2 linked regions of the Homo sapiens genome follow. The protein of the gene in region 2 purifies or fractionates together with the protein of the main gene of each other region. This does not show direct contact. Each region holds a gene or a part of one and is shown on either strand. Other genes may lie near its edges.

Region 1 (3,652 bases), on a different chromosome or scaffold from region 2:
CCTCCTAAGGTGTTGGGATTACAGGCATGAACCACCACACTTGGCTCTGTTTGTTTTTGTGACAGGGTCTTGCTCTGCCACCTAGGCTGGAGTGCAGTGGTGCACGATCTCAGCTCACTGCACCCTCTTCCTCCTGGACTAAAGCAATCCTCCCACCTCAGGCTCCTGCGTCTTGCTCTGTTGCCCAGGCTGGAGTGCAGTGGCGTGATCTCAGCTCACTGCAACCTCGCCTCCCAGGTTCAAGCGATTCTCCTGTCTCAGCCTCCCGAGTAGCTGGGATTACAGGCACCCATTACCATGCCCAGCTAATTTTTGTATTTTTAGTAGAGAAGGGGTTTCACCATGTTGGCCAGGCTGGTCTGGAACTTCTGACTTCGTGATCCACTGTCCTTGGCCTCCCAAAGTGCTGGGATTACAGGCGTGAGCCACCGTGCCCAGCCAGAAATACACGTTTTAAAGAATGACAACAATGCTTGCTTTGGCAGCACATATACTAAAATTGGAAAGATACAGAGAAGATTAGCATGGCTTATGCACAATGATGATATGCAAATTCATATCCGTATTTTAAAAAGTATTCCATATTTTAAAAAAAGACAGCAGAAAATGCATGGGACATTTCTGGAAGGACATAGAAGAAACGGAGTCATGGTTGCTTTTGAATTGGGTCCTTAATATTTGTATGGAAAGGAAAATTCCTTTTCAAGTACAGTAGGAGACTTTGTATTCAGAGCAATTATAATCTATTTATTGGTTATTTTAAAAAGTCAGTTAAGGCAAGGAATAAAAAAATACATATCATAAGCATTAAAAAAGAAATTAACACATATTGCCAGGTGCAGTGGCTCACACCTGCAATCTCAGCACTTTGGGAGGCTGTGGTGGGAGGATTGCTTGAGGCCAGGAATTCAAGACCCACCTGGACAACATAGTGAGACCCTGTCTCAAAAAAAAATTAGCTGAGTATGGTGGCATGCACATGTAGTGCTAGCTACTTGGGAGGCTGAGGTGGGAGGATTGCTTGAGCCCACAAGTTCGAGGCTGCAATGAGTCATGATGATGTCACTGCACTGCAGCTTGGACAACAAAGCAAGACCAAATCAAAAACAAAAAACCAAATAATAAAAAAAAAAAATCAAAAACAAAAAACCCCCCACATATAAAGATTTGTTTGTGGCCGGGCATGTTGACTCACACCTGTAATCCCAGCACTCTGGGAGGCTGAGGCAGGTGGATCACTTGAGGTCAGAAGTTCAAGACCAGCCTGGCCAAAATGGTGAAACCTGGTCTCTACTAAAAATACAAAAAAAATTTAGCTGGGCATGGTGGTGCATGCCTGTAGTCCCAGTTACTTGGGAGGCTGAGGTGGGAGGATGGCTTGAACCCGGGAGACGGAGGTTGCAGTGAGCTGAGATCAAGCCATTGCACTACAGGCTGAGTGAAAATAACCGCTTGCAGCAGTGTTTGTTCAACATAACTTGGTTGTGTCACATGGCATGGCTCTCTATCCCTGCCTGACTCCTTATTTCCATTTTTCTCTGACCAACTAAGTTAGAACCAATATCAGGAAGAGAGAATTTTCTTTCATGATTGGAAGTTATTTTGGAGAAATAATTCACCTATAAATGATGCTAATTTTTTTCTTTATAAATGTAGGCAAAGATTGCATCCTCTGACCCCAAGTCCTAGAAAACAAAATGCTTTCATTCTTTTTATTTCATTTCTCTGCATTAGGTTATGGATCGCCCTGGAAATTATGTAGAACCGACAATTGTGACAGGTCTTGGCCACGATGCGTCCATTGCACACACAGAGACTTTTGCTCCGATTCTCTATGTCTTTAAATTCAAGGTAAAAATGCATTCTGTTCGCTAGCCTGATGTTGAAATAAATGATAAGAGGAAAATGATGGTGGATTAAATTTCACTGGATGAACCTTTAAGAGGGTTTTAGAAAGTAATCTGAATAGTAGATATATGAAGGTTCAGGATAAAATATGAGATAAACACTTTAAAACTCTATAGCATGCCAAGCTAGCTGCCAGGGAAACCAGATTGGGTAGTGGACCAGTGTTGGAGTTTATGAAGTGTGTGGTCCTCATTTCCTGTGTCATCTTAATCCTGGGCTGTGTAGGCCATAGAGTCACCTTCTCCTGAACCGTGGTACTGGATAGTTTGATAGCCTGAGTGCTGTGAACATGTCAGCAGACAAAATGAGAACATGTGGGGGTAATACAAAGACCTATAGTTGGCCAGGCACGGTGGCTCACACCTGTAATCCCAGCACTTTGGGAGGGTGAGGCAGGCAGATCACCTGAGGTCAGGAGTTCGAGACCAGCCTGGCCAACATGGTGAAACCCCGTCTCTACTAAAAAACAAAAAAATTAGCCAGGCGTGGTGTTGGGCGCCTGTAATCTGTAATACCAGCTACCTGAGAGGCTGAGGCAGGAGAATCACTTGAACCCAGGAGGCTGAGGTTGCAGTGAGCCGAGATCGCACCATTGCACTCCAGCCTGGGCAACAGAGTGAGACTCCATCTCAAAAAAAAAAAAGACCTATAGTTATAAACTCCAGCAGAGGACAGGCTGCGGAGTTTTGTTTTGTTTTCCCTGATCTCATATCTTGATCTCAAACTGTAAAGGTTTTAATAGGTGAAGAAGCTGGGCACAATGGCTCATGCTTGTAATCTCAGTGCTTTGGGAGGATCACTTGAGGCCAGGTGCTCAAGACCAGCCTGACCAACACAGTGAGACCTTGTCTGTACAAAAAAATTAAAAAATTAGCCAGGTGTTGTATGTACCTATAGTCCTAGCTACTCGGGAGGCTGAGGTGGGAAGAGATCCTGTCTCTAAAACAAACAAATAAATAAAACCCAAAAAACCCACACAGGTGGATAAATTAGAAGATCTCATTCCCTAGCTTGAGACGGGCCCTAGCCTCGCCAGTAAATATTTAGGATTAATTTTGAGACTGCAGAGATTGAATCAATATTTGAATGTACCATTATTAACAGTAAAATAATAGTGAGAATTGCATCTTGTTGCAATTACATCATTGCTTCTTTATTTCTTGCTTTAAATTGCCTATCATTGTTTCACGTATGGGGACTAGAGAATATAATTTTGTGTTTTGTAATGTGTTTGTGTACATTATGAGGCTGTGTGAGCTCTTGAGCAAATTAGTCTCTGTAGGCCTCAGTTGCCCAATCTGTAAATTGGGAGGTAGTAGGAAACCTGTGTTATAGGATGAGGATTAAATAACTAAATGCATGTTAAGTGCTTAGATTGGTGTGTTACACACGTAAGAGCTCAATAGATATTAGCTATTATATGTAGTAGCTTGAATGAAAGGAAGAATGTGTTAATATTTGTTTCTGATAATTAGGGGAAAAATCCCAAAATTTTTTACTTATTATCAATGATCTGAATTATAAGAGAAACAGAGTGAGTAAACTTGACTCTTTGGTTTCCTTTTGTACACTGAAATTATACTGGTACACTTCAGGAAATGAGTTTAATGTCAGTGAACTTTGACTTGAACACTATAACATCTTACAGCTTCCAATGTCTCTCCTTTTAGAATGAAGAAGAGGTCTTTGCATGGAATAATGAAGTAAAACAGGGACTTTCAAGTAGCATCTTTACCAAAGATCT
Region 2 (3,752 bases):
TACCAAAAATACAAAAAAAAAAAAAATAGTGGGGCGTGGAGGTGCACGCCTGTAATTCCAGCTACTCGGGAGGCTGAGGCAGGAGAATCGCTTGAACCCGGGAGGCAGAGGTTCCAGTGAGCCGACATCGCGACACAGTACTCCAGCCTGAGCGACAGAGCGAGGCTGTGTCTCAAAAATAAATAAATAATAAATTAAAAAAATAAGAGTATCTATAACCTGGTCCCAGCCTGAATTTCCTTTTTCACCCCAACACGTAGCCCTAGTTACATTCTTCTGACGTCTGTAAACAAGCCCAGCCCTTCCTGTTGTGAAGCCAAGTTCAGGTGGTTCCTCTTCGCCTGACTGTTTTCCCATTCCACTTACCGGAAGCCTAGTCATCCTTCGGAGGGCTGTACGGGGGTTGCAAGAAGCAACGGAAACGGTTCAGCACCTGCTACCTTCCATCATATTCTTTTCAATAAAGGGGCAACTCCCGCCAATGGCAGTGTAGATTTCCTAACCTCTACACATGGAAGATTCACACCATTCAGGATTGTTGTTTAACTGTTGAGAGAGCACTTGATACTTAACAGCTTACTAGGCTACAAGACAGCGCAGGAAAGAATCCTCTGTTGTCCTTTTATGTTATCCTGAACAGTTGGTTCACAGAGTTACTGTAAACACACAAAACATGACTGCCAGGGCTTAGTAGTGAGGAAGGTGGGAACTAGTCCTGACTCAGTTAACTGTGCCCAGGAGAAGCTGCTTAACCTCAAAGGATTTCACTATTACTAGAATCAATAATACCAACCCTAGGGGTAAAAATAAAGATAAATGTGTGCAAATCCTGCCTGCAGTCTCGGGCACGTCGTGGGTGTCCAAGAACTGTTCTTAGGCAGCCGGTGGGGACAAAGTCTGTGTGCCTCCTGTCCTGGAATAGGTCCCAAGGTCGGCTTACTTGCAAAGCAAGGGTACGGCGCAAGAGTACTGAATACGGGTTGGAAGGGCGCTGGCTCTACCCTCAGCTCATAGGCCGGCTGGGCGGCGCTGACCAGCAGCTAGGCCCCGTCTTCCCTAGGAACGGCCACGGGGGCCCTGGGAGGGTATGAATGTCTTTTTGCAGTGAGGCCTCTGGACCCCGCGGCCCCCCGGCAGCGCAACCAAAACTCAGGGGCAGGCGCCGCAGCCGCCTAGTGCAGCCAGATCCCCGCCGGCACCCTCAGGGGCGGAGCCGGAGGCAGGGCCTTCGGGCCGTACCAACTCCACGGGGGCAGGGGCCGCCTCCCTTCGGCCGCGCGCCACTCAAGTACGGCAGACAGGCAGCGAGGTTGCCGAGGCCGAGGCTAGCCTGCAGCCTCCTTTCTCCCGTGCCCTGGGCGCGGGGTGTACGGCAAGCGCGGGCGGGCGGGACAGGCACGCAGGGCACCCCCGGGGTTGGGCGCGGCGGGCGCGGGGCGGGGCCCGCGGGGGGGGGGGGCGGGGCGGCGGTGCCCTTGCGGCGCAGCTGGGGTCGCGGCCCTGCTCCCCGCGCTTTCTTAAGGCCCGCGGGCGGCGCAGGAGCGGCACTCGTGGCTGTGGTGGCTTCGGCAGCGGCTTCAGCAGATCGGCGGCATCAGCGGTAGCACCAGCACTAGCAGCATGTTGAGCCGGGCAGTGTGCGGGTGAGAAGAAAGGGGACCCGGTCACGGCCCCAAGGGCGAAGGGGCTCGCGGCGGGCAGGGCCTCCGCGGCAATGGCGACAGTGGCCGCACCGGGCCTGGCGGGACCGGGGCACCTGCAGGCGGTTCTCCCGGGAGTGCCCGGCGCGGCGGCTGGAGCGGGGATCCGCAGGGAGGGGACGCGGGGACTCGGGGGACGCCGCGCGCTGCCGTTCCTCGGCAGCCCAGCCTGCGTAGACGGTCCCGCGGCGCTGACTGACCGGGCTGTGCTTTCTCGTCTTCAGCACCAGCAGGCAGCTGGCTCCGGTTTTGGGGTATCTGGGCTCCAGGCAGAAGCACAGCCTCCCCGACCTGCCCTACGACTACGGCGCCCTGGAACCTCACATCAACGCGCAGATCATGCAGCTGCACCACAGCAAGCACCACGCGGCCTACGTGAACAACCTGAACGTCACCGAGGAGAAGTACCAGGAGGCGTTGGCCAAGGGTAGGTTCCAGGCTGAGCGGCGGGAGGCAGTCCCCGGCAGAGGCGACCCCAGGGAGCCAGGCCCCATACGGACGGGCCTCTCCGTGGAGGAGAACTCGCTTCGTATTTGTACCGGTTCCGAGTTTTCCAGGCACGATAGTCTCTCTTTTAAACACATGGTCTACCTCATTGTAGAAGGAGTGCCTCGATGGGTTTGAACACACTTCTGTCATCTCAGGGAACTTGGGGTCCTGCGAAGGAGCTTGCCTTACTGTTGTGAGCCACATTCCGTTACACATATTGCCAGCACTGGTGAATTGTAGGGCCTGAAAAGAAAGCTCTACTGTGTCACTCGTTTTTTTTGCAAATTGAAATTGTTCTTGTTGTATAATGTGCTTTGGGGAAATGTTTGGTCTCTCAGGTAGGTGTGCCAGCCGTTTGCAGGAGGGCTGAGAGCGCCTGTCCACTGGTGGCCAGACATCATCGGGTCCGCAGGTGTCTCTGAGTGTCAGGGTCACCTCCTGATAGAAGTGGGAGTGGTGTCTTACTGCCAGGTCACACTGAAGGTGGGAGACAGGAGGACACTACTCCGTGCTAGGAACCATGGTCCTTGTCATCTTCCTGAGAGCAAACGGGGTCGGGACTCCAGCCTAGGACTTGGAGACTCCCTGCATCCCCAGCTACCCTGCAGGTGAAACTTCACTGAGCCCACTTGACTTCAGGTGGGAGAGGAGGAGGCACACCGTTGTGGTGTGCGTTACCAAAAAAGCAGTAACCTAACTGTGGAACAGTTCAGGATCTTTAGACTTGATACTTTTCTTGATTTCCCTTAGGGGTCAAAGTTCACAAGGAAAATAGCCCTTTAGTGGGAAACTGAAACAGGCTTGTTTTTATTTACTATTTACTCATATTTGTAATGCAATTAAAATATATGTTGTTAACTTTTTTTTTTTTTCTCAAGAGCTCGGTTGATAAAACCAGGGGTATGTGGACTTTTTGAGTCTGTGCCTTTTGGGGGTGTGTATGGGAATGTTATGTTTTAACGTTTTTTACAAAATAGTATTGTCTTTTTAATTTATTCGTTAGTGGTTTGCACAAGGAAGATAATCGATAGTCATGTTTTTTAGACTCTCTGTATTGCTTGGTAAGCTACGTAGTAAAAAATGTTTACTTTTCCTTAAATGTTTTGAATTTCGGGGTTATGAAATTTGTTGAGTAATTTTTAGACAGTCACATCTTGTTGACTGGAGGCATCTAGTGGAAAAATGCAGTATTTCAGCCTGATTGTGTTTGAAGTAAATGATTAAAAGAGGAGGAAGTTACCACATTCTGGAAGATTTACTTGAGACAGACGAACCTTGAATTACGGGAAAAGGCCCCGTGATTTAGGAAATAACAAATTTGGGAAACATGTAATGGGGAGAGACTGGGGAATACCCCAGTTGTGAAAGTACTTCCTGTAAGGCAACATCTGACACCAGGAACCTTTCTCTTCAGTATTTTAAAAACAACTTAATTTCAGTCCTTTACTTGTGGAATCAGAGCCTTACTTATGTAATACAACCCACTGGAAAAAAGCTTTTTATTGTATTGTACTATATTGTTTATAAGTGATTGAGTACCTGCAGAGCTTTCTTTTACTTAAA

Evidence for each region.
Region 1: the proteins of SOD2 (region 2) and ALDH7A1 fractionate together in Homo sapiens (co-fractionation; one large-scale study listed by BioGRID). This does not show direct contact.

Annotation. Positions count from the first base shown.
Region 1 is NC_000005.10:126,550,220-126,553,871, reverse strand, and holds part of ALDH7A1 (alpha-aminoadipic semialdehyde dehydrogenase isoform 1 precursor), read left to right. Parts: intron 1-473; exon of another isoform or gene 474-570; intron 571-1,734; coding exon 1,735-1,851; intron 1,852-3,578; coding exon 3,579-3,652.
Region 2 is NC_000006.12:159,691,036-159,694,787, reverse strand, and holds the start of SOD2 (superoxide dismutase [Mn], mitochondrial isoform A precursor), read left to right. Parts: upstream 1-1,546; 5' UTR 1,547-1,620; coding exon 1,621-1,643; intron 1,644-1,924; coding exon 1,925-2,127; coding exon of another isoform or gene 2,128-2,324; exon of another isoform or gene 2,325-3,752. UniProt on the Homo sapiens protein: Destroys superoxide anion radicals which are normally produced within the cells and which are toxic to biological systems.